3 separate regions of the Homo sapiens genome follow, and all the other regions are linked to region 2. Evidence: fine-mapped expression QTL. A gene starts in region 2. Each other region holds a variant in brackets. All regions are shown on one strand. Distances are from middle to middle. Region 1 has its middle 78 kb from the start of NEO1. Region 2 holds the start of NEO1 (neogenin 1). Region 3 overlaps ADPGK (ADP dependent glucokinase).

Region 1 (10,743 bases), 78 kb before region 2:
CAGTATCCATGGGTGATCAGTTCCAGGATGCCTGAGGATACCAAAATCTGAGGATGCTCAAGTCCCTTATATCAAATAGTGTAGTATTTGCATGTACCCTACACATATCCTCCCATATATGTACTTCAAATCATTTCCAGGTTACTTATAGTACTTAATACAATGTAAATGCTGTATAAATAGTTATTGTATTGCTTTTTAATTTGCATTATTGTTTTTATTTTTAGTATTTCTGATGCAGAGTTGGTGGAATCCACAGATACAGAAAACTGACCGTACTGTAGAATGTCCCACTTTTTTGATTTGCCTGATTGATTTACCACTGAGGTGATGCCTAACAAATTCCTGTCTCCCCTGTATTTCCCATGAGATGGAAATTAATTCTACAGTCTTGATGTGATTCAGGTAAAACCTTGTTATCCAGAAAACCTCATAGATGATGCTATGTACTTTAGCACTGTATCACACAAGGAGGGATGTCATGTCAAGTTGGCCTATTATCAGTGACACTGGGCTTGATCACTGGATTAAAATGGTGATGGCTTGCCTGATCCCTTTATTGCAAAGTTAAGGGTTTTCTCCTCTTGGAACTAGCAGATAAACTGGGGCGGTAGTTGATGCCCTGTAAATATGTAGCTCACCATTAACCTCTCACCAGCTGATCTTACAACCACTGATGGTCTTTGCCTGAATCAATCATCCCATAGGGGTTGCAGAATGGTGATTTTCCAATCCCATCATTCCTTCTTCACTTATTAGCGTGCACTCTTCTGTAAAAGAGCTTTCCTTCATCAACTGGGCTATTTAGTTACCCTGAAATATATAGCTCCTAGGGAAAAGACAGGTTATGTACTCGTAACTCTTTCCCCTGCATAACCCATTTTTAAAATAAGTTATTGGTAAATAGCATATTTTAAATCCTGGGGTAAAAAGGTTTTTCTCTCTCCTCTGGCTCCAATAATTGTTTTAGCATGAGCCTGGGAAAGGGTTTGGGGCCAGAAGTGTGAGATTACTTCCCATTCTGCTTAGTGGGAAGAAATCACACCTCCCATTTTACCCCCTCTATGACTCAGATTCCTTCTCAAGTTAGCTGATCCTAAGTCCTAAGATTAAAAGTTACGGTTTCTCAGCAGATCCTGGTTATATGATTTATAAATTTGGTGCTAATCTTTCCTCTGTCATTGGAGGTATCTCATAACATGATTTTTCCAATGCTTCCCTAGGAAGAGTATTTATTCCACAAACTGATGGAATTCAGTGGCATGTATTTCTCTCTTTGACTGCAAATTTTATTTTAAGCGTTCCAGTGAGAACTCTTAATTCTGAAACCTCAAATCAGAGTAAATAACTCCCCTCCTTCTCACTGACTACACCATTTACACGTGGCTGGGCCCACTGCTAGCATAAAACCTCAACTCTCTGCCCAGCCGAGCAGCATACACTGCTCTGAGCTCTTTAATATGTCCTCATAAATCCAGCTCCTCTCACTGCCCTCGGATTCCCTGTACCTCTACATTTCCTCCCCAATAACTGAGCTCAGCACGGCTGCAATGTGGTGCTCCCTTCCTGAAATCAGATGCAGAGTATTCTACCCTCTCTTTGACCCCTTTGCCTCCATGCTGCAACATAAGCTCCCATCTAATTGCTGCTCTGCCTCTCTCAGCAGAACCTGACCTCTTTCTGGGTCCCTCTCTTAAAGCAACTGTCTGTGTTTTTCATTATGTTTGCCAAGACATATTATCTTGAACTTTTCCCAGATGAAGCTCGTTTTTTTACTTTTTCTTCAGACCCCTGAGGTGGCAGGTTCAAGAATGCAGTCTTCAGAGGGAAGCTTTTGGTCTAGGAGGCTTCAGCCAGGACAGTTCAGTTAATCATACTCTCCCTCCGGGTACTGCCCCTTTAAGAAGTGGACAGACTCTGGTTCCAACTCCAAACCTCAGTTAGAAGTTCAAGCCACAAGACGAACACACATGTCCTGCCCAGAAAGCTGCCCAGCCTTGCTGTTGACTTTCTCCTGACAGCTTGTCATCCACATACCCATCCCACGCAAACGCAAACATATCCTTTTAAACATCGAAGTCTCAAAGCCTCCCCCATGAAAAGGAAGTTGAAAGTCAAGTTCCGGGCACCCTCGGCTTCTGTAGTTTGACCAGTAACCTGGTAAGAAGGGGCACCTCCTTTGACAACCCGAGTGTGCCCAACAATGCCAATGAGAATTCTTTAATGATCACTCGGAAGATGTCATCTCTGTGTCTCAGCGAATCCTTCTCTTAAAAAGAAAAGCACTCATGAGACTGGAAGAAGAGGGGGAAAACTCAGAGTGATAAGAATGCTAATCAGAACGAAGGGAATTTTCCAGCTTTTAGCTTTCCTAGCAAAAAAAAAAAAAAAGGCATCTATAAAAAAGTGTTGGAAGGCTTTTCTTGCAGCCTGGGGCCTTTGCCAGGGAACAGATTTCTCTCCCTCAACTCAGTTTCTTCCAGACCTTTTTCCTGTGCATTCTTTTTTCTTTCTTCTTCTTTCTCTTCTCTCTTAGCGGAGCCTCCTCCGGCTGAGAAGTAATCTGTGGGGAGCCCGAGGGGTCTGTACTGTTCAGGCCCTGGAAAGAGATGAAGGTAACTGCCTGCTGATAGGGGCACTGCACCATTTGGGATTGCAGTAGGGAGACCCCACTCCTCAACTGGAGGGATTCATAGAGGTCACACCCAGGGCTTCCTTGCTGCTTTTTCTGTCACCTCCCATGCTGTTTTCTTCCCTTCGGTGTAAGCCAGCCCTCTCTTTTTGTGGTAAGATGACTATGGGAGTCCCAGGCTGGAGGCTGACTCTTTGCACCCACTTCCCACACTTGTTTCTGACAAGTCTGATCTGTGTAGCTCAGCACATCCAAGGACAGCCTTCCCCTTGGCTTCGTTGTCCAGATGCATGACCCCAATGGCTTTGTAAATGAAATGGTATAATCTCAAGAGGCTAGCCTGCTGTAGAGAGAGGAATAAATAAATCAATATGTAAATAAATCCACAAGAGCAGAGGGGATGTACCGGGACTTTGCAAAACTATGATGAAGCATTTTAGAAGATGGATATTGCTGTATTTCTGGTGAGCTCTGATTGAAAGGCTATGATTCCAGCCATGGGCTGTAGGAGAGGGAAAGTGAGCTGTGACGGAAATTCCCTCATGGATTGATTTGACTTAAATATATTCCAGGAGCTGATCTAATTGCTGGTTCAGTCTTAGGCTTTGATTTTCCTTCTCACAATTCCCTGCATTTCAAATAGTTTTTATTAAGGGGCCTGAGCTGCCCTCAGTCCTACTGAGAATCTTTCTGGATATATGACTAATTTTTTTTATTTATTTATTTTATTTTTTATTTTTTTGAGACAGAGGCTCGCTCTGTCACCCAGGCTGGAGTGTAGTGGTGTGATCTCAGCTCACTGCAACCCCCATCTCCTGGGTTCAAGTGATTCTCCTGCCTCAGCCTCCCAAGTAGTTGGGATTACAAGCACACACCACCACACCTGGCTAACTTTTGTATTTTTAGTAGAGACGGGGTTTTGCCACGTTGGCCAGGCTGGTCTCGAACTCCCGACCTCAGGTGATCCACCTGCCTCAGCCTCCCAAAGTGCTGGGATTACAGGCGTGAGACACCATGCTTGGCCTGTGACTGATTCTTCTGAGAACACAGTACTAGAAATACTGCCCTTGGTCAAAGGAAGAACCAGACATTCCCCACCTGAGAAGGAGAAGCATGCTGGTAATTTCCAGGGGGACAGGTAGTTAGTTATTCTTATTTTGAATCAGAAGTGCTGGTGGCAGCCTCTTACTGTTCAGACTCTGAGACATATTGGTTTGGGGGTACAGTCCAGGAAAAGGTGGGAGGAGAACTTCCAATCAGGTGAGTCTTATGCATGGAAGGCCCCAGACACTGACCCCTGGAGTCTGACCCCTTGATCTTCTCATCAGTTCACAGCCCTCTACTCCACCCCTGCTGCCAGTCTCCTCTGCCTGACCGCCTGCCTTACAATCCGATTTATATTCTCTTTCTCTCTCTCTCTCTCCACACACTTCCTCCTCCTCTTCTTCTGGAAAATTTCAAGCATATACAAAAGTAGAGAGAATAATATGATGCCCCCTTTACCCATCACCCAACTCCAACAATGGTCAACTCACAGCCACACTTTTTTTGAGATGAAGTCTCGCTCTGTCACACAGGCTGGAGTGCAATGGTGTGATCTCAGCTCACTGCAACCTCCACCTCCCAGGTTCAAATGATTCTCCTGCCTCAGCCTCCTGAGTAGCTGGGATTACAGGCACACACCACCACGCCTGGCTAATTTTTGTATTTTAGTAGAGATGGGGTTTCACCACGTTGGCCAGGCTGGTCTCGAACTCCGGACCTCAGGTGATCCGCCCTCCTCGGCCTCCCAAATAGACTTATTTCAATTACATGCCCAGCTGCTTTTACCTTCACTCCTTACCTCTTGCTCTACCTGGACGATCTTGAAGCAAATTTCAGATATCATGTAATCTGTAATTAGTTTAGCATATAGCTCCAAAAGATAAGGACTCTTTTGGATATAACAATTCCATTATTATACCTAACAATAAGAATAATTCCTAATGTCTCCAAATATCTGGCCAGTGTTAAAATGTCCTCAGTGTCTCCATTTATTTTTACATTAGTTCAAGTCAGGATCCAAATAATGTCCATACATTATAATCAGTTTATGTGGCTTTAAGTCTTTTCTTCATATAGGTTTTCTTTTGCTTTCAAAATTTATTAAATAAACTAAGTTATTGAACTATAGTTTCCCATAGCCTAAATTTTGCGGATCACCAGTCCCTGTGGTATTTTTTTAACACATTCCTCTGTCCCTGTTTTTTAATTGGTAATTAGATGACGAGATTTGTTGAATTCAGGTTTGATTTTTTTTTTTTTTTTACAATAATGCTTTATAGGTAGTGGTGTGTTCTTTCATCAGAGAGCATATAATGTCAATTTTGTGTGTGTGATATTACCAGCCTTTGAGTGCCATTGTCTAAATCTATTTCATGTATATCAT[T/G]AAGTGTTATAAAATAGTGACATTCTATCATTCTCTTCATTTATTAGCTAGACTGCTTCTATAAAGAGAAATTTCCTCCATTGATCAATTGGTCACCTTTATATCACTTATCCCTGGGAAATCTTAGGCCACACAGCCAGAATATGAAAGTGCTTTGTGGCCAGTGTCCCTCAGACCTCAAGGTAGATTCTACAGGAGGAAACGGAGTTACCCCTCAACCTTCCCTGGGCCCTCTGTGTTCACTTCTTCAAAGATATTTTAAAATCCATTTGCCAGCCAAGATATTGGCCCTGCTTCAATGCAATATAGGTTTTGCATTTACCAATGGGAAAATCTAGATAAATTTGAGTAACTCAGAAAACATTTCCATTCAGTTGTTTTAGAAGCCACCCATGCAGAGTCCAGAGCTGCACCTCACACCGGTGTAGTGTGGCCTATCTACATGATGCTTAAGCCATGTAGGTAGGAACCCACACTTCCAGGGCTGTCCTACTGGTTGCATGATAAAGAAGATCTATCCTCCGTTTTGAAGGTACTCAGTCTTGATCCTGAGGAGGAAGAAAGCAGAGAATCCTCCATGCAGAGAGGTCTTCACCAGCTAAGGACAGCAGTGAGGCCAGAGCCCAGCTGCTCACCTTGTGCCACCATCCTTGCCCACTGACCATGATGGCTCTAGTTGCAGCACCACTACTGCTCACACCTGCCCTGGAACAACAGTCCTGCTACCCAGGATTCCTTGCAACTGTAGAGAATTGTAGGCTGCAGCTGGGTGATTTCACAACTTGCTTGCCCACGCCTGATGGGGGACACAGAGGTGAGTCTTCTCACACAAGCTGTCAGTAGTCTACTCAAGAGTTGTCAGGAATGAGGGAGACCCACTCAAGCAGATAATATCAAGCAGCGAGGGCTCTGGGACAGGGACAGACCAGCCACTTGCATCTGACGAGTGAGCCACAGTAAACTGACCAGTACTGCAGCCACACACTCAAAAGCATCACTGGCTATTGGCTGCATCTGCTATCCAGCCCAAGCTGGGACTAGGGTTGCCTCACTAGGTGTATGAGGAGAAGCAGTGGCAGGAGTATAGTAGCTTCTTTATTTTTCCACCCAAGCAGGCAACTGCAGAGAGAATGCAAGGAGGGGTATAGAGATGGGCACAACCCCCCTTTGAATGCCATCATGAAACATGGCGCTTGGGGACCCAGTCAGGTGGGCCTTGTGTCCACCTATAAGAAACATAGGGAAAGGAATTAACCAGCTGTACTAGAGCCTTTTACCTACCACCTAAATTTCCTCTCTGAGCCAGAGAGTGTTTCTGGCTTCTCACCAAAATGCAAGGAGATTTTGGTTAAAATCCATCCCATTCCAAATTTGTGAGACAGACTCTGGTTCCATAGGCCCAATACACCACCTGCTTCAAATGGTCGTAGTCCAGGTGGTTGTATCTGCCAAGCACCCACAACAGCAGCAGGGTAATGGGGAGTGCTGGTGGAACCTTTCACCTATAGGATGCTTGGAGTCTTACCTGTGGAGTTTAAGGCGGGTGGCAAGGGTTGGAGGGGAGGCATACATGAGAGCTTGGTATTGTTGCTCACCTTATGTTCATGTTTTTATTTCCTGCTGATAATTAGATGTAGCTGGCATGAGTCCCATAGCTCTGCCAGCTTCACTTCAGTGTCTTGGTATCAATGGGCCATGCAAATACCCTCATAGCCCACCTGGATAGGAACCACGCAAATTTGCAACCTTTGAGCCATATTGGAACAGAACTTGTCAAGTATAAGGCTGATTTCCAGAGGCTCATACCCAGGTTTGCAGGAGTTCAAAGGCATATCAATTCCTTGCCATTTCCCGGGGACTTTCTTTACAGTGAGCAGCTCAGGATGAACCAGGCCTGTCAGGAGCCAACATGGTGATGATGCAGGGCTGCCATTTGCTTCTACCTGACACTAGCATTTGGATCAGCTCAGATCATTCCTAGGACATACAAAAGTGGCCCTGGTGGGCACACAGCCTCCATTCATATCAGGAATTAGTAGAAGACAGTAAGTGCAGTGATTATTAGTGCTATTCACTAAATATTCTCGGTTCTCCAGGCTCATGGTAAAATTGCCTTTCCTGATCCCATTGGGTTTGGGTGGAGCCATCTGCTAGCTTTGCCAACGAATTGTGAGTAGAAGTGACAGAAGTTATTTCTATGCCCAAGTATTTAATTGCTGGGCAAGACACTCCTCTGCTGACCATGATCTCTCTCTGTCCCTTTGACATGACAACTGGTAATGTTTGAAATGGCTGCTACTCTGTCAACCTGGGTCTCAGAGTAAGGAGCACAGAGGTGAGCCCTTCTGACCCCCACTGGATGAGTAGCATTACCAAATAAACCTAGTTTGCTATAAGCGGCCAAGATTTGAGGATCATTTTTATCACAATATAAGCTAGCCTATACTGACTGGTTCAACTGATCAGACATGCTTGGGACAAAGCAGCTGTTTAGGATGACCTTGAAACTATACAGCCTTCTTGAAGTTCCAGGGTCTGATGTAAGCTCCTGTATGATCTCTTGGATCTGGAGCAATTATCCACTTTAATGACACATCCATCGACTCCCTGGCCTGGCTTCCTCCAGATATTTCTGAGGCCTCGCACCCCTCATGATGCCCTTCATACTCTTAGAGCATGAGCCAAGGTCAATGATAGGTCTAGGAAGCCCAAGGTATGGTAGACAAAATAATGTCCTACTTCCCACCAAAGATGTCCATGTCCTAATCCCCAGGATCTGTGAATGTGTTACCATATGTGGCAAAAGGTCTTTACAGATGTGATTAAGACTCTTAAGATGGGGCGATTATCCTGGATTTGGGTGAAAGAGGGAAGCAGGCATGCCAGAGTCAGAGAAAAGAGTTGAAAAATGCTATGCTGCTGGCTTTGAAGATGGAGAAAAGGTACTATGTGCCAAGGAATGCAGGTGGCTTCTAGAAACTGGAAAAGCCAAGGAAACAGATTCTCCCTTAGGGCCCTCAAAAGGAATGCAGCCCTGCCAACGCCTTGGTTTTAGCCCAGTGAGACCCATTTCAGACGTCTCACCTCCAGAATTGTAAGATAATAGATCTGTGTTTTTTTAAGCCATTAAATTTGTCATAAATTGTTACAGCAGCAATAGGAAACTGATACACAAGAGAAAACCTTCTCCTGTTACTGAATACTTTCAGGAGACCGTTGTGACCATCAACCAAACTTTCCAGAGCACAACATGCACTTATTGGAGCCCCCTGAAACCCTCAACAACTGCACCCTGACAATGTGGCCTATTAATAGACCCCAATTCCTGCAGTGAGTATGATAGAGATTCTTCTTTATCCACCATGTTTGAACCTTCTGTCCATTGCTCATCACTCTCAAATCATTGGAGTTCTTGAACCAATGTACTGTGTGTCTTCCTTATTGACTATTCGATTTCAACCATGTAGTAGACACCAGTAAATATTAGGTAAATATGAATGAGTGAATAAATGCCATGAGGAATTATCTGATAACGTATGTAGCTCTGGATGATCTGTTGAAAATCTCCAGCAAGAAACACACCAATCTGAGTTATACACAGCAAAAAATTAAAACAAAATAGCAAGCGGATACAAAAAAAGGATTTAGTGCTTTGCCCACTCGCAGTTTCGTCAGGTGCAAACACAATCTGTATGATTCTCCTTAGTTGGCTGATTCTTTTGATTCCTTCTGCCGTGCCTGTTGTCTTTGTGTGTGTGCTTGCAGAGGGGGGTTTCTGACAGTGCAACAGATCTGTCCTCCCCTGGGCACCTGCTTCCTCCAGCTTATTCAAATTTCACTCATTTGTTAGAAAAGTAGCATGATTTTGTAAGCAAGGATGTTCAGTGGGACGAGAATGAAGCATACAAACTCATATCTTTGTGACTCAAATATAGTTTGATTCATTCATATTTATTCCAACTCTGCCACTGAATAATAATTATGAAAAGAGTTACAGTTTGTGCTGCCGTTAAACAGTATTTTGGGGCCAGGCATGTTGGCTTACACTTGCAGACCCAGCACTTTGGGAGGTCGAGGCGGGCAGATCATTTCAGTTCAGGAGTTCGAGACCAGCCTGGGCAACATGGCAAAACCCCATCTCTATAAAAAATACAAAAATTAGCCAGGCATGGTGGAACATGCTTGTAGTCCCAGCTACCTGGGAGGCTAAGGTAGGAGGATCACCCGAGCATGGGAGGTCAAGGATGCAGTGAGCTAAGATCGTGCCACTGCACTCCAGCCTGGGTGACAGAGTGAGACCCTGTCTGGAAAAAAAAAAAAAAAATTGATGAGGTAAAATCCCATTTTAACAAAAATAAGCATATCTCACTTAACGTCAATAATCTGTTCCTGAAAAACAGAAGTTCTACTCTTAAACACTGATCATTATTTTAAGGGGGAATAATGCATTTCGTGATGACCCAAAACTCTAAGATAATTTCCCAAAACATAATTGAAACATGGCAAAACGCCTATATACGTAACAACTATCAGCTTCGTATGTGAAATGCTTAAAGCACTCTCTAATCAAAGTTTTAATAAAAATGGATCTCACATGTAAATGAAAAACTTAAACTTATAAAAGTTCTGGAAGAAAACACAGAAAAAAATATTTGTGACTTTGGCTTAAGGAACAAGTTCTTAGCAATGATACCCAAAATATTCAACCTATAAAAGAAAAAAATTGCTAAATTGGATTTCATCGAAATTTGAAACCTCAACTCTTTCAAAGATAATGTTAAGAGAATGAAAAATGATAAACTGGGAGAAAATATTTGCAAATTACATATCTGATAAAGGACATGAATCAGCAATATACAGAGAACTTTCAAAATTCGATATTAGAAAATAATCCAATGAAAATAGGCAAAAGGGATAAAAAGACTTGATCAAAGAATACATATGCATAACAAATAAGCACATAAAAAGACAGTCATCACATCGTTAGTCACTGGGGAGATGCTCTTTACCTGTATTAGAATAACTAACTTTTTTTTTTAAGTTTCGCTCTTGTCACCCCGGCTGGAGTACAGTGGTGCGATCCCAGCTCACTGCAACCTCCGCCTCCCAGGTTCGAGCGATTTTCCTGCCTCAGCCTCCCGAGTAGCTGGGATTCCAGGCGCCCGCTAACATTTTTTTTTTAAAGCTGAGAATACCAAGTACTGATGGGGATAGGGAGCAACAGGAATTCTTGTTCATTGCCTGTGGGAATGTAAAATGGCACAGCCACTTTGGAAGGCAGTTTGGCAGTCTCATAAACAGACAATAATCACGTGATCCAGCAATTCTCTCCTAGTTATCCAAAAGAAGTGAAAATTTATGTTCACACAAAAACCTGTATATAAATATTTATAGTGACTTTATTCATAAGAATCAAAGTCTGGAATAAACTCAAATGTTCTTCAGCTGGGGAATGGATAAACGGACTGTGGCCTATCTGTACATTAGAATGTTATTGGCAATAAAAAGGGACAAACTATGGCAGACAAATAAACATGAACGATTCTCAAATGTGTTGTGCTAAGTGAAAGATCCCAGGTCCAAAAGGCTTCCTACTATCTGATTCCATGGGTGTATCATCCTGAAAAAGTAAAACTATGGGAACAGAAAACAGATCAAAACACAGAACAGAAAACTGCCAGGG
Region 2 (10,743 bases):
ACCCAAAAGTTATTTTTTCTGCTCCAGTCTCTCCTCCCACCCTCTACCCTAAAGTAGACCCGTGTCTGCTGTTTCCTTCTTTGTGTTCGTAAGTTCTTGTCATTTAGCTCCCACTTATAAGCGAGAACATGCGATATTTGGTTTTCTGTTCCTGTGCTAGTTTGCTGAGGATAATGGCCTGCAGCTCCATCCATGCTCCCGCAAAAGGCATGATCTCATTCTTTTTTATAGCTGCAGAGCCCTGATTATTTCATCTATATCTCTAAAAGTTTATCTGTTCAAGTTGGCCACAAAGTTTTACGGGGGGGGATTGTTTTTGTTTTTATTTTTTGAGGCATGGTCTTGCTCTGTTACTCAGGCTGGAGTGCAGTGGCAAAATAATGTATCACTGCAGCCTTGACCTCCAGGCTCAAGTGATCCTCCCGAGTAGCTGGGACTACAGGCACACGCCACCACACCTAGCTAATTTTTTTTTTTTTTTAATGTAGAGACCGGGTTTTGCCCTGTTGCCTACTCTGGTCTTGAATTCCTGGGCTCAAGCTATCTGCCTGCCTCGGCCTCCCAAAGTGCCGGGATTACAGGTGTGAGCCGCCGAGGGGCCTGGGGGAGTGGGGTGGATTCTAATTGGAAAAATGGAGGCTCACCTTATTTTCAGAAGCACCTTATACTCAGGCATATGTAGTGTATGCTGATGACTCACTTCTCCAGTCCTATCTCCCTGCTAAACTCCAGATCCAAGTAATGAACGGCTTACTGATATTTCTACTCAGATGTATTTAAAGTACCTATGTATGCATAGGTACTTTAAATTTCCTTGTCCAAAGTTAAACTAACATTGTCTCCCATCTGCTCATCTTTCTCATTCCCCCCTCAGTGAATGCCACCACCTTCATTCAGCTTCCCAAGTTGAAATCTGAGTTACCCACATCTCCTATCTCTCCCACACACCCCTGCTGTTTCTATCTATCTCCTAAATCTCTCTCTTATCTGTTCACTTTTCTTAATCCCCTTTGCTTTACTCCAGGCCACCATCATCTCCTCCCTAGACTATTGTAACAAAATCTGAACTGTTTTTTTTTTTTTTTGGTCTCGACTTCTTCCAAACTACACTCCAAGAAGCAGCCTCAGTGTTCCCTCTAAAACGCAAATCTGAGGTCAAATCCCACCTGTAGGCGTGGCTGACTCCTATCTACCTTCAGGTCTCTGTTTAGAGGCCAAAGCTTCTCTAATTCTCCTTCTCCCACCCCCACACACAATTTAGTCAAGTTAGATGCTCTTACTAAGTTTTCCCACACTCCTTATCTTTCCTTACCATAACAGTCTTTACACTTCTTTGTTATAATTGTTTACCCTTTCTGCTAGACTGGGAACTTTGTTTATCTGGCTCATCACTGTCTTCCCTTAACATAAGCCAGGACCAGAGACACAGGATGTACTTTATAAATATTAAATGAATGAACCAATAATTTTGTTATCCCAGCATCCAGCACAATACTTGGTGAAAACAGGTCCTCAATAATTTTTGCTGAATTAATAGATTGTTGTTGAACTAAAGATATGTGATCAACTAAGCAACATGTGACAAGCAAAATTAATATTGAGCATGCTTGTACTTAAAAAGGAGCACACATCCTTTTTAATTACGCTTAATCAGAGATGGCTCCCTAGAGCAGGTGGCTTCTGAAGGAGAACGGGAGAAAATAAAAATTCTTACCTAGTGGAATGTAAAGGGCAAATATAAAAATAACAATCTCTGTGCAGAAGAAAATCACTTTCTTAAGACTGGGGCAACTTCTAGTTGAAGTCTGCTGTGACTAGGAAGTGTTCTATCCTGAGATCTGCTAGTCAGGGGACTAGCTTTCTTCTTCTCAACCTCGGACACTGGGATTCAGCCAGGGAATCAGCTGCAGAATCTCATTACTGCCAGCAGTTAAACACTGAATTGTACGTCCTTTCTAATGTTGAAAAAAAAATCCTTTTACTATAGAGAATAAGATTCCTACCAAGTTTTATATTCATAGGCTTTAATATTTCATGTAATTTTTATATCAAAATACATTAGCATAAATTTCACAAGATATCAGTCTAGTTATTTTTGGCCTGCATTTCGATAACTTTTACAGACACACAATGGCCACTCTGTTTTCTTTGCTCTAAAGTTTCTTTGTGCACTTATTCCTTGAACATGGGCCTCATGTTCTAACTTTACTTAGATGAAAAAACTGTTAATTTCACCAGTGGTTTAATATCTCTTCATAGATTGATAGTTTAGACAACATAAAAGTGTTGATTAGCAGTATACGTGCAGGCTGAAGTATTTGTTGAAAATCTTGTTGGGAGAATAAGAATGATAAAAGAGATGCCTAAGAAAATCTTTTCTCAGATATGCTTTACTAAACAAAGAACAGGTTAATTACTCAATGATGATTTTTAAAGGGCATGTCGACAGTGTCAGTGACTTTGAAACAAAGTAAAGGAGCTGAATTCAAGTGTGTGCCTGAGTTACTTAACTATCTTGAACTGATTTAGGATCTGTAGCTTTAATCTGGGGCTCCATCTACTAGTGGTTTAATAGAGTGGGTTTTATTAAAATTGTGATTTAATCAGAAGCCAGAAATATACAACTGTTTTAAACTTTTTGATATTAACCTGATATACACAGTGGGCTGATAAATTAGTGAGACAGTTCATATAAGTCATATATGAAAATCAGTCTGTTATTAGCCACAACTCATGTATTTTTCAAAACTTGGAGATAAATGTAAGCTTCATCTCAGAAGTCATATTACACGTTATAGGTTTAATATAATGAAATTTTTCCAGACTTAGAAAAGATATCAGGAAATTAACATTTGCAAGGCAATTTACAGTTTTCAAAGAGCTTTTCTCATTAATTATCTCAGAAAACTGAATAATGATGTGATTATTAAAGGTTAATTAAGCAAATACTTGTGAAGTAATTGGGAGGTAATCTATTTCTAATTTAACAGGTCAATCACGGGTATTTAGGAAATATTTTTGCTGGTTAACAACTCTAACCAAAACAAAAAGGTATTTAAATGGTTTCCCTAGTGAAAAACCATAAGCATGTGTTTCCTCTATTAAGTCAATTGTTTCAAAGAACTAGCATGAGAATTCCTAATTTCACCGTTTTGATGATTTAAGGTTTTATGAAGATTCTGAGCTCTTCCCTCCCGACGTTAATCCATGTCTTACATTGTTCATTTTGGCGCTTTAGAATAAAATATCTTTGGAAAGTAACTATGAGAAAGCACAGAGGGATATGTTAGTGAAATAGCCATTTTCTTGTGGGAAGCAAGACATTTCGGTTATCGACTACACAGAAGAGTGAATAAAACCCAACGCCTATCAACCACCAAACGTGACTCTGCTTGCATAATCATACAAATAAATTTTCTTTAAAAATTTTTCATGGGTGCAGTATATAAAATGATCAATAGTCTCATCAGCAGTGGAACTACAAACTGCTTTCTCCTAACTTTGTGTAGCCTGGGTGCTGCCTCACGATTACTAAGTGGTTTAAAATCATATCCCACTTGCTCCTTGGTTTATCAGCGAAAGACGTGATTCCCAGGTAGGAAAACGCCAAGTGTCCCGCAAAGGTACAGGTAAAACGTAGCAGTTACTGCGAGAAGACTGGCCCCGGGGAGTCCCAGGGCTCGGTCGGGGCCCCCGCACGAGCTGAGGAAGTGGACAGCGGGCACCTTTGTCTGTGCCTAGTTCCCTGGACCCGGGCCGAGCGATGCGGGTGGGGGCGCGGTTCGGGCGGGTCCCGGCGCTGCCCGGGGGAAGCGCGCGGCGACGGCGGCCCGGCTTGGGAGCCGGAGGTCAGCGGCTGCGCGGCCGGCCCCCTCCCACGGGAGCCGCGCCAGGGCCCAGCAAGAGTCGGGCGGGATCGCTATTGTTTTTGGCGAGCACATAAATCCCCGGGCCGACCCACTGCGCACCCAGGTTTCCTCCCGGAGGCCTTTCGGTTTCCTCTGAGGCCCTATATAGAGGCTCCAGGCCCGGACTGTGCAGAGGTGCGCGCCCACGCCGGCCTCCCGGACCAGCCTGAGCTCGGAGCGCCTCTCGCCCTCAGGTCTCTGCAGCCAGAGGCATCTGGGGAGGTGAGGGGGGAATTTGTCCCCGAGGCGAGGAGGAGGAGGCGGGGGCGCGCGGAGCCGAGGGGCTGCGGCGAGCGGGCGGGAGGAGCAGGAGGATCCGCTTCTCCGGGGTTTCCCTGACGCCAGCAGCAGCGCCCGGCGCGCGCGCCCCGCACCCGTCAGCGGCTCCGGGGAGAAGGGGGAGGGGAGCGGGCCCGCCACGGCCCGAGAGGCGGCAGCCGGGATTGGAGCGGGGGCGGGCCGCGCGCGGAGCCGAGGGGGTGCGGGCGAGGCGCGCGCGTGCGCGTGTGCGCGCCCGGGACTCCCGCCCCCCGCCCCCGCCCCCGCCCCCGCCGTCCGCGGTCTCCGCCCCCCTCGCGCTGGTGTGTGGAGCCGGAGTCGGCGGCGGGTGGCGGCGCCTGGAACCTGGAGACCGACCCACCGCCCCCCCCCCCCCGCCCCGGAATGTACTGACTCCCCTTCTTCGCTCTCCTCCCCTCCCCGCCCCCTTGCAGGAGGGAGGCGCCCTGGAGTCTCCCCTCCAGCGAGAGGGGCTGCGCGGGCCGGGCCGGGCCGGGCTGGGCTGGAGCAGCGGCGGCCGCGGGAGCCGAGCTTGCAGCGAGGGACCGGCTGAGGCGCGCGGGAGGGAAGGAGGCAAGGGCTCCGCGGCGCTGTCGCCGCCGCTGCCGCTCACTCTCGGGGAAGAGATGGCGGCGGAGCGGGGAGCCCGGCGACTCCTCAGCACCCCCTCCTTCTGGCTCTACTGCCTGCTGCTGCTCGGGCGCCGGGCGCCGGGCGCCGCGGCCGCCAGGAGCGGCTCCGCGCCGCAGTCCCCAGGTAAGCGGCGGGCGCGGGCCCGGGGGTTCGCGGGGGCGCGGCACCGGCTCAGGCGGCCGCGGCTGCGGTGTTTTTGTTTAGGATCCAGGAGGAAACGTGCAGGAACTTCTCTGCCTCGGCTCCGGTTGCCGAAGAGAAAGGGGATCGCGCGTGGTGGGGAGGAGAAGGGCGAGAGGGGGCGCCACCGGGGAAGGGGCGGCTGCCGGGGGGCAGGTCGGGGGCGCAGGGGTCTAGTTCCCAGCTTTGTACCTGGAGGCAGGTTCACCCCTCGCCTCTCTCCCCTCCCCCAGGCTCATCCCACTTGTAAGAGTGGGACATTCTTGTGCTCACACTAGCACCAGTAGAGGCCACTACACACCTCATTAAATAAACAATCAGACGGCCAATTCATTAATTTTCAGGAAAGGAAAGGGGAGGGGGCTTGAGCTCCTGGTTCCCTGGCCAGGGATTTCCCAGCTTCCGAAGTCTCGAGGAAGAGCTGGCTAGTCTCGAGGGACTCCTCGCGCGGGGATTGGAGCCCGAGTCTGCGGAAGAGCGGGGGTGTCAGAGGGGCACAATTGCCCGCTCACAACCCCTGGTGTTGATTTAACGATGAGGACGCCTTGGAGAGCGGCTCGGAGTGATCGTATCTGTTAGTGTTTCCGTTATGAAATGCCTCTTCTTTCCTGGGGATTACAACTATATTTACAGCCTATTAACCACTCTTAACCAAGGGAATTGTCTAAGCATCAGATTTTAGGTACTTGTACAATGTTTTCAGATGGCATTGTATAAACATTGAACCTCAAAAGCCATTTTCAGTTCTTTTTTGGAATATTATAGATTACTGAAACCACCTGCATTCCTATTAAGGGGACCAACGAACAAAAATGCCAAGCCTTCCGGGAAGGACCTTACGGTATTGTTGAGCAGGATACACTCAGCAGTTGAAAGGCAAATTAGCATGTAATCTGTTAAAATTATTTGACCAAGGTGGTGTACCATAAAACTTGACAAAACTTTCACTCGTGTGAGATATGATATTTTTACATTTGAAAGCAGTCTTACCGCTGAACCAGTACTTGTTTTTCCCTGATTTATATGAAATAATATTTAAAATCACACTGCAAGGTAACTTGACTGATAAACTTTTCATTTCCTTGCAGAGTGTGTATGTAGCTCATGGCTTTTGCCAATGTTAAAGAACAGCTTTAAACGTAAAGTACCACTCGGTATTCTCTAAACAGCTACGTAAACAATAGTGTTTTAATGTCAAATTAAACATCACTTATGTCATGATGTACCCTTATACATTCAGTCCGTATATGGTTTAGAACACATTTTGGTGCTGAAATGCAGGTTACTGATCCAACTGTCTCTTAGATGAGCAAGAGAAATATAACTATTTTGGAAAACAAGTTCCTGTTACTCATGATCTATTTTATATGGAAATTCATATGTAGTTCACCAAATTTCAAGTTTTTGTTTAAAGTTTTGCCGATAATTTTGTAAGTAACTAAAATGCTAGTAATTTTATTACTTAGGATAATAAAAATAATGCAAGCAGTCTCAGGAAGTGGTCTTAACATCTGTTTCAACATTAACTCAATTGACAGGTTTTTATTTTGCACAGATGAGGTGCAAGGCATATGCTCTCTGCCTTCATGGAGTTTACAGTCTGGTGTGTGGGTAGGAAAGATAGCCATCCATCTACTGATTATATAATTAAGTAATTGTGATAAGCACTACAAAGGAGAATAGGTTTTCACAAAGTGGGTACTGGAGTGACATAACCTAGTCTGGGTGTTAAGAGTGTCTCACAAGAACTGAGATCTGAGGAGTGGGTAGGAGTGGAGGTGGGGAGGCTCACAGGTAATTAGTCGTTTAATTGGGTCTAGAACATAGATCTCCTGATTCTCGGTCCAGAGTCCTTCCTGTAAACCGCTCTGCTTCATTACAAAAGCGAGAGGAATAACTGCAATAAGGAGGGGTTGGTCAGTTCTGCCATAAAACTGCGGAAGAGATCAAGAGACTGGAGAACTGAGTAAGCAGCAACTGGAACAAGCTGTCCGCAAATCAGATGTCCTTTGTCAGTAGTTTTATTTTTTTTATTTTTGTAGAGTGATAGACTTATAAATCTTTTTATAGGGGATTATAGTGAATAGATTGTAGGGAAGTGGACATGTTCAGTAGTAGAAGGTGGAGAAAAATAGAGATGTGGGACAATAGGATAAATGGAAAGTGTTTTTCCATCTGAGGTTATAGACATACGGAGGTGGAGGAAAAAGTAAGAAGTAAAGGACTGGTGATAGAAAATGGTCAGCAAGGGAGGAGGGTTGGAATTGAGTAGGAACATAATCTGGTATTCTGAAAAAGGGCAGATTACTGAAAAGATATGTAGAGACCTTGGGGAAGATGACATGGCAGCAGCCTGTGCAATGCATGTCTTCTCTATTTAGAGTGAACATTCTTCACCGAGGACTCTGTAGCTTCTGCCTGAACCATTTATTTCATGATGTGATTCATTGCCTTACAGGGTAGTCCATTTCTGTGTTGAATAACTTCTGTTAGAAAATGTTGCTTTGTACAGTACATTTCACTGTAGTTTTCACCCTCCCCACCCTTCTTACATTTTTTCCTCTTTGCTTACCTTTTTCAGCATTACTCTATCTTCAGGTTAATCTCTTCTCTGATTAATTCTTCATTTGTCTTTCTGGCTTTTCTTGAACTCACTCACTTAAATATTAGTATCTAAAGCTTATCTCATTATACATACTCTGTTTGCCCTCAGTTGCCACCTGTAAGCTAAGGACTCTCTTAGTCCACACTTTCTCACTTGCCACTCGGTACCTTCACTAAATAGGATCTTAGGTTACTGAAGTCCGAAGTTAAACTCTGTGTCATTTTCCCTCGTGCTTCCTTCATCCCCATTCTCTAAACATGAACAAACCAGTTCCTGGCCCCTGTGTCTCATGTTGTTGGAAGGATTGCATGGATTTGTCTTCTTGTGTTGCCTGTCTTGGTCATCACTGTTCATCCACTTGCCCAAGCTGAGATCAAGAAGACCTCCTCTTCCCATTGCCATAGCGGATAGTTCTTTTTGCTTTTTACCTCTCAGCTGTTTCTTGACTCTGAATCGGTATCTTTTCATCTTCATCCCCACCTGGACTAACAGTAGTGGCTCCATAATTAATCTCTTTGTCTGTACTGTTACCCTCTAGAAGTCTGTCCTGCTAGAATGAGCTTCCTGAAATATTTTCCTGAGCATGCCACTCTCCTACTTAAAATCTGTTACTAGTGTTCTGTAGCTTGGGTGTTAGAACTCTTTGGCATGGAGATTGTGAGGCCCTTTGTATTCTTTACCTCTGTTCTCCCAAACCCAATAAAGCCTCATCTCTTGTCACCCCTAACATGCACCTTGCATTCCACCACTCCAGATTAACGACACAGCTTCAGATCTCCGTGCCTTTGCACATGCTGTTCTTTCTGTTAAGTCACTTCTCACCTTGTCCACTTCTGAAACTCCTTATCTAGTCAATGAATTTTTCTCTACCAGCTTTCTCTTCCAAAGAGAGTTATGGTCACTATTCTGTGTTCCCATAGCTTCCTGAGTACTTTTCATCTTCTGTTACTTATTTTCTTGTCTTTTCTGCTAGTCTCAACCTCTGAAGGGGTTGGCCGGGTTGTCTTATTCACCTTTGTTTCCCTAGTGTAGCACTAACATGTAGCATAGAGAAGATAACCAGTAAATGTTTGTTGACTGAATGTTGAATTGCCTTTGTTTTTAACCCGTAGGGCCATACAGCACAAATCTGATTCCTTTATATGATGGCCCTTCATGTGTCTAATCACATTTCCTGTGTGCATGTGTGTGTGGGCCCCCCCTGCCCTTCCCCTCAAACCTTATCCTTTTTAAGTTAACCATCCTTAATTCCTTCAGCCACTCTTCACATTACTTAGTTTCCAGATCTTTTGTGATCTTGGTCATCCTCCTGGATATGCTGTAGTTTTAGCGTTTTTTTAGTTTTGTCATCTTTGGAAAGATCTTTGATCTTACTGAGTCATCTAAAAGAAAAGACTGATGGCGTTGCTCTGCCTGTCTGTTAGAATGAGGCACAAAAGAGATCATAGAATTCTGGGATGAATGCTCAAAGAAGATAAGAAATATGACTGATTTTCATAAACTGTATGAAAATTAATACATGATGTGAGATAGTGAAAAGACATACATGAAGGCAGAGGATATGGGGTATGACTTGTGGTTCTGCAACTTCACATACATCTGTAAGTTGGGGGATATAGGCAGGCAAGAATAATACCTTACCTACCTAACTGGATTGTCAGAAAAATAAAATGTAAAATTGTTCATAAACTATAAAGTACTGTACCTATGTAGAATGGCTTCAGTGTTTCTTTGTGAACTCTAAAAATATACTATATTAAATTATTTGAAAGTGTAGACTTTTTTTTCTTTTGGCTTAATTGATCATTGCTGGTTTCTTCCTTATGAGTTTTTCTCTACCTCAATGAAAATATTGGGGTAACCTTAATAAATCTCATTATATGGAGGCTGTATTTAATAGTCTTTTTTCCAAACACTTTATTTTATTAGTGACTTCCATGTGATTGGGAGCTATTTACCATATCATTGGTAAGTGTTTAGGTTTCTGGGTAAAATTGCATCAATAATTGGAGAACAGTCAGAGGAAATGACTGTAGGTAAGATCATATTGACCGGAGAGCTAAGTGAAGTGAGGAGAAGTTTTGTGTTTACGATTTTGAAAAATTAACTTTGTCATGGACATAGCTAGTGAAAGATGATTTTAAAATAGAGCTCAAATTTTGGATTCATTTAGAATGAAGAGAGTTTTTTTGATTCAAAAATTTTGTAAATAGTGACAAAAAAAGGCATTCAGACCCACTGGTATGATTTTGGTATATTTCTTTCTACTTACTGCCTATATGGCACATTATCTTTTTACATTGTAATCATGGTGTATGTATAACTTGAAATGTTTTCCTTTGACATTATACCATTTTTCTTTGTTGTCACATTATCTTTAAATCATTTTATTTTAAAAACTTATTTAAAAATACATAAATATATGTTTGTTTGCAGTCAAACAATATAAAAATACATAGAATAAAAGATTTTATCACTTCTACCCACAAATTCCATTTTTGAAACCCATAAGTAACCCCTTTTAATATCTTCCCTTGCATGTGCATATGTGTGTATGGTTTTATTTTTTTACAGATAAGCAGGATCATACTACCTATTGTTTTTTCAACTTGCTTTTTCACTTAGTATGTTGGAGATCGTTCCATGCCAGTACATACAGATTTTCCTATAACCATTATTTAAAATGTGTGTGTAATATTCCAGGGAGCAAATATAATAATAGTGGCTAATTAAAGTAGTAGTTACAGAACACTCCCTGACTTCCAGGCATTGTGCCATGCTCTTTCACATGTATTTAATCTTTTATACAGTCCTGTGAGGAAGATGACAATTTCTTCACATTCCACAGATGAGGAAACTGAGTCTCAGATATTAAGTGCCTTGCCGAAGGTCTCACAACCTTTCATGTGCAAGAGTTGGCATTGGAATCCAGGTTTTTGCAACTTCAAAGCCTATGTTCTTTATTCCTCTGCATTCTGCTGCTAATTGTGTATTCTCCTGTTATGGATATGGAAGTTGTTTTTACTGTTTTGCTGTGATAAAGAATGCTGTGATGAACATATTCTTTCTATATTTTGGATTCCCCCATATAGGATTGCTGGTGAAAAGTTAACTTGTGTGTGTATGTGGGGGTCAGGG
Region 3 (10,743 bases), 280 kb before region 2:
TTTTAGAGATGGGGTCTCGCTATGTTGCCCAGGCTCAAGTGATCCTCCTGCCTCATTTTCCCAAAATGCTGGAATTACAGGTGTGAGCCACTGTACCTGGCCTGATTCCAATTTTGAATGAAGTTCCACTGTGGGTAAAATGCTATCAAACAGCATCACATGCTACAGAGAAATCTTTTGTGAAAGGAAGAGTTAACTGATGTGGCAAACTTCATTGTTGTTTTAAGAAATTGCCACAGCCACCCCAAGCTTCAGCCACCACCCTGATCAGCCAGCAGCCATCAACATCAAGGCAAAACACTCTGCCAGCAAAAAGATTATGACCGTCTGAAAGCTCAGATGATTGTTAACATTTTTTGGCAACCAAGCACTCTAAAATTGTGTACACTTTTTTTCAGACATAATGGTACTGCACACTTACTTGACGATAGTACGGTGTAAACATACCTTTTAATGCACTGGGAAACAAAATTCATGCGTTTTATTTTATTGCAGTATTTGTTTTATTGCAGTCGTCTAGAACCAAACATGCAGTATCTCTGAGGTATGCCTGTTATCACTTGAAAGTAGACCGTGATAAGCTAAAGATGTACAGTATAAACCCTAATGCAACCACTAAGAAAAAAAGAATTATACCTAATAAAGTCAGAGAAGATAAAATGAAATCATAGAAAATAATCCAAAAGAGTACAGAAAAAGAGGGACAAAGATAGAGATGGGGCAAACAGCAAACAAATAGCAAGATGTTAGATTTAAACCTAACCTGATATATCAATAATCACATTAGATGTAAATGGTCTAAACACTCCGATTAAAAGGCAGAGATTGTCAAAGTGGATTAAAAAGCAAGCCCCAACTATACGCTGTCTATAAAAAATACACTTTAAGGTAAAAAGATGCAAATAGATTAAAAGCACAAGGACAGAAAAAGATATACCATGCCAATACTAATCAAATGAAAGCTGGAATGGCTATTTCAATCAAAATAGATTTCAGAGCAAAGAATATTATGAAATGATTTTATTTATCCCTAGTAATGATAAAGGAATTAATTCATTAAAGGGATGTAACAATCCTAAACATTTATGTACCTAATAAGAGTTTCAAAATACATAAAGCAAAAAGTTACAGAACTATAAAGGAAATAGACAAGTATCCAAAATTACAGTTGGAGACGTCAACATACCTCTTAATAACTGACAGATCAAATAGACAAAAAAAAAAAAACCAATAAGAATATAGAAGACTTGAACAACACTATCAATCAACTTCATCTAATTGACATTTACAGAACACTCGACCCAACAACAGAAAGGCTTATGTATATTCTTGAAGCTTTCAAGTACACACAGAACCTCACCAAGATAGAATATTCTGCACCATGAAAAAGGTCTCAAAAACTTAGTAGGATTCAGGTCATAGAAAGCATATTTTCTGACCATACTGGAATTGAAATAGAAATCAGTAACAGAAAGACATCTGGAAAATCCCCAAATATTTAGGAACTAAATAACATACCTCTAAGTAGTCCATGAATGGGCTATTAAATGGCACATCTCAATAAATCAAAGGGATATTAGTATTTTGAAATGAATGAAAATAAAAATAATCCATCAAAATCTTTGGGATGCAGCTAAAGCAGTACTTAAGGGGAAATTTATAGCACTAAACCCCTATATGAGAAAACAGGAAAGGTCTCAAATCAATGATTGTAGCTTCTCACCTTAAGAAACTAGAAAAAGAGCAAGTCAAATCTGAAGCAAGCAAAATCCAATGAAAATAGAAAAACAGAGAAAAATAAATTCACCAAAAGCTAATTACTTATTAAAAAGAGCAATAAAATTTATAAACCTCTAGCCAAGCTGATCAGGAAAAAAAAGAAGATACAAATGACCAATATCAGGAATGAGAAGGAAAACATCATTACAAATTGTAGAGATCTTAAAGGAATAATAGAATACCATAATTAACTTTATGCCAATAAATCCAACAACTTAGATGAAACAAATTCCTTGAAAGATACAAACTACTAAAGCTCATTTAAAAAAAAAAAAGGAAAATCTGGATTTCCCTATATCTATTAAAGAAATCAGTTATTTAAAATCTTCCTACAGAGAAAACCCTGGGCCTAGAAGGCTTCACTAGAAGGCTTAAATTCTATAAACATTTAAGGAAGATACAATACCAATGCGACACTCACTCTGTTTTAAAAATTGAAGAAAGGGCCAGGTGTATTGGATGAATCCAAGCACTATGGAAGGCTGAGGCAGGTGGATTACTTGCAATCAGAAGTTGGAGACCAGCCTGGCCAACACAGTGAAACTCCCTCTCTACTAAAAAATACAAAAATTAGCTGGGCATGGTGGCACACACCTGTAGTCCCAGCTACTCGGGAGGCTGAGGCATGAGAATCACTTGAACCTGAGAGACGGACATTGCAGTGAGCTGAGATCGCCACCACTGCACTCCAGTCTGGGCAGAGCGAGACTCCATCTTAAGAAAAAAAAAAAATTGAAGAGAAGATAGGTGTGGTGGCTCACACCTGTAATCCCAGCACTTTGGGAGGCTAAGGCAGGCGGATCGCTTGAGGTCGGGAGTTGAGACTAGCCTGGCAACATGGTGAAACCTCAAGTCTACAAAAAATACAAAATAATTAGCTGGCTGTGGTGACGTGTCTGCAATCCTAAATACTCAGGAACTCGGCTGAGGTGGGAGGATGGCTTGAGCCCAGGAGGCAGAGGTTGCAGTGAGCCGAGATCATGCCACTGCACTCCAGCCTGGATGACAAGGCCAGATCCTGTCTCTCAAAAAAAAAAAAAAAATTGAAGAGGGGGAAACACTTTCCAACTTATTCTACAAGGCCAGTATTGCCCTGACAGCAAAACCACAGACATTACAAGAAAAGAAAAATACAGACCAATATTATTCTTGGGCATTGATGTAAAAATTTTAAACACAATTTTAGTAAACTGAATATGTGAAAAGGATAATGAATACATCAGAACAAAGTAAGCTTTATCCTAGAGATGCAAGGTTGGTTTAATATGTGAAAGTCAATATAATTACCATATATCAAACTAAAAAACAAAAAACCACACAATAACCTCAGTAAATGCAGAATTTGACAAAAGCATTTGACAAAATAAAATAACTATTCCTAATTCTTGCCTAATTCCACAAGTATATATTTTTTTGAGATGGAGTCTTGCTCTGTCGCCCAGGCTGGAGTGCAGTGGCGCAATCTCGGCTCACTGCAACCTCCGCCTCCCGGGTTCGAGCGATTCTCCTGCCTCAGCCTCCTGAGTAGTTGGGACTACAAGCGCCTGCCACCATGCCCAGCTAATTCTTTGTATTTTTAGCTAAGACAGGGTTTCACCATGTTGGCCAGGCTGGTCTTGAACTCCTGACCTCAGGTAATCCGCCTGCCTCGGCCTCCCAAAGTGCTGGGATTACACAAGTATATTTTTTAAAGGCACGGTTCCTCTCCTGAAATTTGGCTTCTATTCTATCATTCCACTAAACCTGCCTTTACTATATTCACCAGCGTCTATTTCAAAGATGCAATATAGCATGGCTATTAGGAGAATGGATTCTGAAGCTTGACTACTTGGGTTCAATTCCCACTCTACTCATTATCAGGTATGTGATTTTCACCAGTTTTAACTTCTCCATGCCTCATTTTTCCTATCTGCAAAATGGGGATAATAAAAAGACTTCCCTTATAGGGCCCTATGAAGATTTAAATTGGTTCATACACATTTAAAGCACCTAAAACTTAAAACAGTGCCTGGTATATGGTAAAAAACTATAGAAGGAAGTGCCAGCTATAATTACCACCTCTGGAAAATACCTAGTTCTTAATCTCTGTAGTTCTCAGATGATCTCTCAGTCCATGTTGAGAAGCATTTCAGAAAGTTAAACTGAGTCTCTTTGAGAGTGCATACAGGGTGAAGTAAAGGCAGAGCCTGACACTTGAATCCTGACTCTATCATTTACTAGCCAGGTGCCCCTGGGCACCTTACTTAGCCTCTCTAGACCTCTGTCTTTGAAATCATAAGACTGTTGTGAGGATTGAGTAACAGAATGCTTCTCTTTCCTCAGTCTCCTACCAAAGCCAGACCTGTTTTATTAGAATGCCTTCCAATCAGACTGGTCCCAGGACCAGCTACTCCAGAGACCAAGAGCAAATGCTGGTCCCAGGGGAGGTCAATACTGAAAGGTCAATCTTGTACTCAGCCATGACCGTCCTGGGTATTGTCTTCCCAGAGGGCAGAATTATTTCTCAGGATCAGGAGGGTGGCTTCTTAGGAAACCATGAAAACTCCTGGGATTCTGATGGGAATGGCCTGGGCTCTCTCTAAAGGGCTTATGATCAATCTCCTTTTCTTCCACCCATTAGCTGGTAATATTTCCAAAGGTCAGCCCTGGAATTTCTAATCTTCTCTATTTGGGAGTTAATTACAATTTATAAACATAATGACTGCAAAAGTCTTTATTTTCTTTTTATTATTCTTTCTTAAAAGTATTTTCTACCCTAATATTTCATGAGAACTTTGATTCCTATTAAAATATGAATGTTCACATTTTAATATCCTCTCTAAACTGAAAGCACATCTATCTCCAGGTGTATAGTGTGGCTCCATATGAATTTTTCCCTGAAACTGCTGATGACCTATCCGTATTTCTGAGTTCATCTCTGGCTTCTGGTTCCACCACTCTGACTCACATTTCTATTTTTAGGCTGGTCCCCCAAAACTAGAAGACTGTTCACAGTCTGTTTTCTAGTGTTAGCGGCCACAACCATTCTGCACTGATCAAGGTTATTTACTCCATAATCATCTTTGATAAATCTCTTCTTTGTTCCCCATGTATTGTAGTAGGTTTTAGATACATGTTTCTCCTCTCTGGCTGCTCTAATCCAAACCTTAATCATTATACAGGAAAACAGCGATAACTTTCTTGTTGGCCTCCCCCTTCAGGCCTATTCTACTCATAGCAAGAGAAACTTCTTACTCAGGTGTTACTGTGAACATGGCAACGATTTTTAATTCTACTTAAACCAAACAATTTAAGTCTTGAAGACACTCCCCTACTGACTCTCATCTAGTGGCTTTTATTTTTTGGCACTCTGGATCCAGGCTCACCAACACGGCCAACCGTTGTTTTCCCTCATGACTTGTATAATCCTTAGTCTCAAGGCCCACATGCTCCTAACTATTAAATGATATGGTGCCTAAGAACATGGGTTATTGGGTCAGACTGCCTGGGTTAAATTTCTCATTCCATTACCAATCAGTTGTGAACCTCTGTGTGCCTCAAGTTTTCTCATGCAGAAAGGAAGAACAATGGCAGTACCGACTAGCCTTACAGGGTTTGTTGCAAGGATTAGATAATCTATGCAAAGCACTAAAGACAATGTCAGGCACAGAGTAAACACTCAAAGTATTAGTTACTACTATCTCCTACTATTACTGCTTCCTAACAAAAGACCCAGGGTCTGGTACATAGTAGGTGATCCATAAGTTGAATCAAGGAATAGATACTCATTCTTGCTCCTAAAATTATTGAAACACTAGGGAAAGGCATAGGTTTTAATCTAAAAACTTGACCTACCTTTAAATCTGAGTTGGCTGCAAATTTCTGTCCAATTAAAGCTGCATTTCCTCCTACATAGTGCTGTAAGAGAGTTCAAGGCTTTTAGACAGTATTTTAATACAACTATATCACCCAAGTTTAATCATTTTTTATTTTAAAAATTAATTTATAGTCCATTTCCCAAAAACATTTTGAGGTGATTTTACATCAAAGGACACACAGATGAAGTGAATGCAACACAGAAATAGAAAGTGAGTAATAAGATGAAGAAAATAAATAGGACAACCATGAAAATGAGTCTGATTGCTTTAACTGTTGATCAAATTCAGCTCTGAGCTTACAGACAGCCAGAAGAGACACAGGAAACAGGAAAAGTGTGGACAGGGCTTATCGTCTACATTATAGTCCTTCTAAAATGAAGAAAAATTTCACTATCCTGTGGAAAAATCATTCAGTAGATACTATAATGAACTAAAATCTAACTCTTGAGTGAGGCACATATGGCCTTTATCTAACCCATGTTTTCCTTACTACCTTCATCTCCTGCCCTTCCCTTCCACACCCTGCTTACAGCTCTCCAAGTCAGCCTTCCCCTGTCTCTGTGCCTTTGGCACATGCTGTTTCCTTCCATTAGGACA[C/A]CCTCCCTTTCTCATATACTAGGTAAAACCCTGATCACTTTCCAAGAATCAGCTGCAGTGTCACCTCTTCTGTAATGCCTTCTCTGTTCCCCTTACACCCCACTGACATCTCAGCCTTCACAACCGCCCTCACCAGATAGGATTACAGATCTCTTCCTACCCCTATAACCTGAACAAACCTCTAATGCAGCTCTTGTCTGCTTGGGCTACTATCATCTGGGTACACAACTAGGTCCTTCGGGGCAGGGACTGTCTTCTTCTGAAGTGTTCAGTAAATGTTTGTTGCTAAATTTTGAGAAACGAAGAAACACACTGATGTGTTGGGAAACATAAAAGTTTTCCTGGGAGTAAATTCTAAAGATAATGGGCCCCTAATATAGGACAGTACTTTCCCTTAAACACCACATCTCTCAGCTGAGGACCTGGAGAACAAATAATTCAAGGTTGGTGTTCCATGTTGCTAAGGATGGATCCATATGCCTTGGAAATCTGACACATAACAGCTAAGGCTGCTGTTCTATTATAAAAGTTGAAAAGCCTGATAGTGTTACCTGGGTGGAATGCTACTATCCCAGCTTCCTAGTCCTCAGCCCACGCAGAGGCATAGACTAAACCAGGGGTGTCCAATCTTTTGGCCGCCCTAGGCCACACTGGAAGAATTGTCTTGGGTCACACATAAAATACACTAACAATAACGACAGCTGATGAGCTATTAAAAAAAAAGGGTGGGGGGGAGGTTAAATCTCATAATGTTTTAAGAAAGTTTATGAATTTGTGTTGGACCACATTCAAAGGCATCCTGGGCTGCAGACTGGACAAGGTTGGAGTAAACAATTCTAGATGGTAGACATCACTCTTATCCCAATTTTGTGCTGACTAACCTCTGAATTCAGGTGGGACAGTAATAGCTTTTTAGAGATAATTTAAAACTTTCTGTGATATGTAGGCTGAAATTTGGCCCTTTAACATGTCAGCCTTAATGTTTTATTCAACCACGATAGTTAGAATTTACTAAAAAAAATCTTGGGAAAATAGTAAGATATCTACAAAGTGGATTTCAGAATTTTCATATAATGTTTATCAACCTGCCTTAAACTATAAGGAAGTATGAAAAGGCACTCCTCTAGTGAAAGGGGTTTTACAATGTTAAGAAATAACCTGGACCATCACAAAGCTAGATCAAGTTGCTGTAAAAATTTTTTTCATCAAGAAATAAAGGCAGAATCAAGAGAGAAGAGAAATCAAACTGGTGGTTTAAATTCCGTAATCATAAAGACTTTTGAGCAGTGAACTCATCATGTTAGAACTATCGAGATTCTCTCATAAGAGATAAGAATCTCACTACTGATCCCAGTTGTCAAAATGATAACTGAAATCTTAACTTGCTGTCACCTTTAGAAACTCAGCTAGGTAATGCCTATGTCCATTTCTAATGTTCAAATAGGCAGCTTCGAAGACAAAAAACTTATTTTTAAAATTTTTTTGAGACAGGGTCACACCCTGTTGCCCAGACTGGAGTGAAGTGGCACGGTCATGGTTCACTGCAGCCTTGACCTCCCGGGCTCAGGTGATCCTCCCACAGGCACATGCCACCATGCCCAGCTAATTTTTTGTATTTTTTGTAGAGACAGGGTTTCACCATGTTGCCCAGGCTGGTCTCAAACTCCTGGGCTCAAGCAATCCACCTGCCTCAGCCTCCCAAAGTGCTGGGATTACAGGCGTGAGCCACTGTGCCCGGCCTAAAATCTTAAGTCATCAAAATAAAAGTAGTCACAAAGGTTTGCCTGTGAAAGGTGCCAATTAAAAATGGCATTAAGAGCTTCCCTGGCTAGAACTACCAAACCAGACTGGGTGCCCAGCCAAAGGGAGGTTTAAATGAGGAGGAAGAATGGGGTGGGGGCAAGACATGGGAGATAACCAACCAACCAAAACTCAGCCTCAAGAGGCATGAGGGTACATGTAGGAGCAGGCATACTGGGGTGAGGTAGGAAGAGCCATGGTTGGGTCTCCAGCCCCAGCACTGCCTCTTATTCCACGTGAACCTCCAGGAAGTGCCTGGACCATGCAGGGCTTTGTATATAATCACCAGGTGAACTTGGAAACCACTAAGGTTCTAACTTCGACAGGTTCTACCTTGCAGACCAGTGGTTCTCAAAAGGAGGTTCTCAGACCTACAGGATCAACCAGGAAACTTGCTGGAAAGGTAAATTCTTGGGTCCCATCCCACATCTACTGAATCTGAACTCTGGTAGTAGGCCCAGAAATCTGTGTTTCAACAGCCTCTCCAAATGATTCTGACACATGCTCAAGTCTGAGAACCATCAACCTAGACCCACAGTTTTCAACCAGGGGTGATTTTGCTCCCCTCCTCTTCAAACTGGAATGAAAAGTTGCTTGCTTGCTTCTAGGAACCATATTAAAAAGGCATCTTTTTCCACCCTTAATTTACTATTGCTGAACCAAACAGACCTGGGCTCCTGGGAACTCTGATGCAACCTGGGCAATGTCGTGAAAAGTTTCCTTATCACTGAAGAAGCGCTCAGCAGCTGCTCCCTTCCCCATGAAGTGAATGAAGGCTTCTTCCAGATCATTCCTTGAATGCAGAATGCTGTGATCTTTCCCATTCCCAGGACTAAGGCCAAGTGCCTGCAAGAGCTTCACCCCTGAGAGCACCACATCAACACATGCATTGACTCTAGAAGGAGGAAAAAAACTGTGTGAAAGCAGCAGAAGCACCAAGTAGCCATTTTGCATTTAACAAAAGGAAAATGTTTCTCAGAACCTTATTCAACAGAAAAAACAGGAAGTAGGTCTGAAACCTGAATTGGGAAGTAAACAGCACATGGCAGGAGAAAAATTACTTTAACTGGATTTATGTATTAGCATCAGAACACAGGACTCTTCAATAATTTGGCAAACTTTTACACTAGTTACAAAGTGAGAAGATAGGTGCTTAGCATTTCAGAACAAAGCTACTGTAACAAAAATGTAACATTTCTGAGAAAAACGCTGGCAGAGCCAAACAGGATTCATGCTGGCCGTGTGACTTGGGCAAGTCACTAATTTCTCTGTGCCTCGGTTTCCTCATCCACAAAATGGCAATAATATGAGCATTTAACTCATAGAGCTATGGTTAAGATTAAATAAGTGAATGTATACTTAGGAACAGCAATTGGCGCAGAGTAAGCAAAATATGTGTTTCAGTCAAAGGCTAGGTATCAGGCATCTTCCCTCTAAAAACAAATGAGGATGGTAAGATACAATAAATTCCTAAATGCCTGAGTACTCCCAGCTGAAACCCTGCCTCTTAGAATTTAGTGGTGTTTTACAGACTTAGGCACACCTGCAGCATTTTAAGAACTCACCCTTTGGCCAGTGTTCACAGGACTGACCCATGAACGTTAAAGACCTGCCACTCCTGGTTGTCTCGATGGAAATTATAAAGTACAGGTTGAATCCCTTATCTGAAGTGCTTGAGATCAGAGTGTTTCCGATTTTGGAATATTTACATATACATGAGATATCTTGGGAATGCAACCCAAGTCCAAACACATTTCATATATACTTTATACATACAGCCTGAAGGTAACTTTATACAATGTTTTAAATACTTTTGTGCATGAAATAAAGTTTCTATTCCTTACGTGTGGGTGGAATTTTCACATATAAGTACTTAATATACATCAGTGGCATCATGTCAGTGCCCCAGAGTTTTGGATTTCAGAGCATTCTGGATGCTCAACTTGTACTAAGGTTGTCTGGCATGACCTCTCCTATGTGTGTATGGAGAAAGTCTGTCTTACATTTTCAGGGTTTCTTTGCTAAGTCATCCCTCTTTTAAAGAGAACGTTCAAATAATTAAGGTAGCTAGATGAGGTCTTCCCGCCCCTACCCCTATCATGGTCATCTTTATTCCTGCCTCTGCCTATTGGGATGTCATTCTGGCCAGTGAGGTTGGATTACCACACAGGCAGCTCCCAGCCGGCAAACTGAGACCACCCCTAGTGATACGGGTGACTGGGCTTCAGAGTTAATTCTGAGCAGCTCTGAAACCACAAGGTAAACTCATTAATAAAAATGTCCCAATGGATGAGATTTTGGTGTAAAATACATAGTTGTATTTCCCTTTTAGTCTCTTTCAAAAATGAAGAGGAATGAGACTGGGATGAAGAGGAATTTTACCAGGTATATTTCTACTTTTAACATGCTTGTATTCCTTTTAGAATTTTTAAAATGACATAACTTTAAAAAGGTTTGTATGCAGACTAGATATTATTTACATCACTTAAGGAAGATTTACAAGGGCAAGGAAGAGACATCCTCCCTCAAGACACAAAGAGACTGCATCCTCATTATAAGGGTCCTTTTTATTAATTCTTCCCCTAGGGATTCATGTTTTGAAAGGAGTTTTGCCTATCAAATAGCATTTAAATACTCAGTTTCTTGTTCAAGACACACATAATGACTCTGGTCAACTGGAGAAGCATAACCTAAGATTTACTATGCCTTT

What was found. PIP is the estimated chance that this variant, and not a neighbour inherited with it, causes the effect.
Region 1: its variant is fine-mapped to the expression of NEO1 in whole blood (TOPMed, PIP above 0.99). The same link has a PIP of 0.9 or more in blood mononuclear cells.
Region 3: its variant is fine-mapped to the expression of NEO1 in whole blood (TOPMed, PIP above 0.99). The same link has a PIP of 0.9 or more in blood mononuclear cells.

Annotation. Positions count from the first base shown.
Region 1 is chr15:72,969,588-72,980,330 of GRCh38, forward strand. No RefSeq gene overlaps it. Among named protein-coding and RNA genes, the nearest start is that of NEO1, 78 kb to the right of the region's middle. The variant T/G (reference allele first, on the strand shown) is at 5,061.
Region 2 is chr15:73,047,863-73,058,605 of GRCh38, forward strand. NEO1 (neogenin 1) reads left to right here and starts at 4,601. Exons shown (of 29, transcript NM_002499.4): 1 at 4,601-4,943. The coding sequence starts at 4,814. RefSeq lists silencers at 3,721-3,770, 3,831-3,900, 3,991-4,310, 4,541-4,920.
Region 3 is chr15:72,766,170-72,776,912 of GRCh38, forward strand. It overlaps ADPGK (ADP dependent glucokinase), which reads right to left. Exons shown (of 7, transcript NM_001365225.1): 2 at 8,703-8,928; 3 at 5,614-5,676. Among named protein-coding and RNA genes, the nearest start is that of ADPGK-AS1, 11 kb to the right of the region's middle. The variant C/A (reference allele first, on the strand shown) is at 6,234.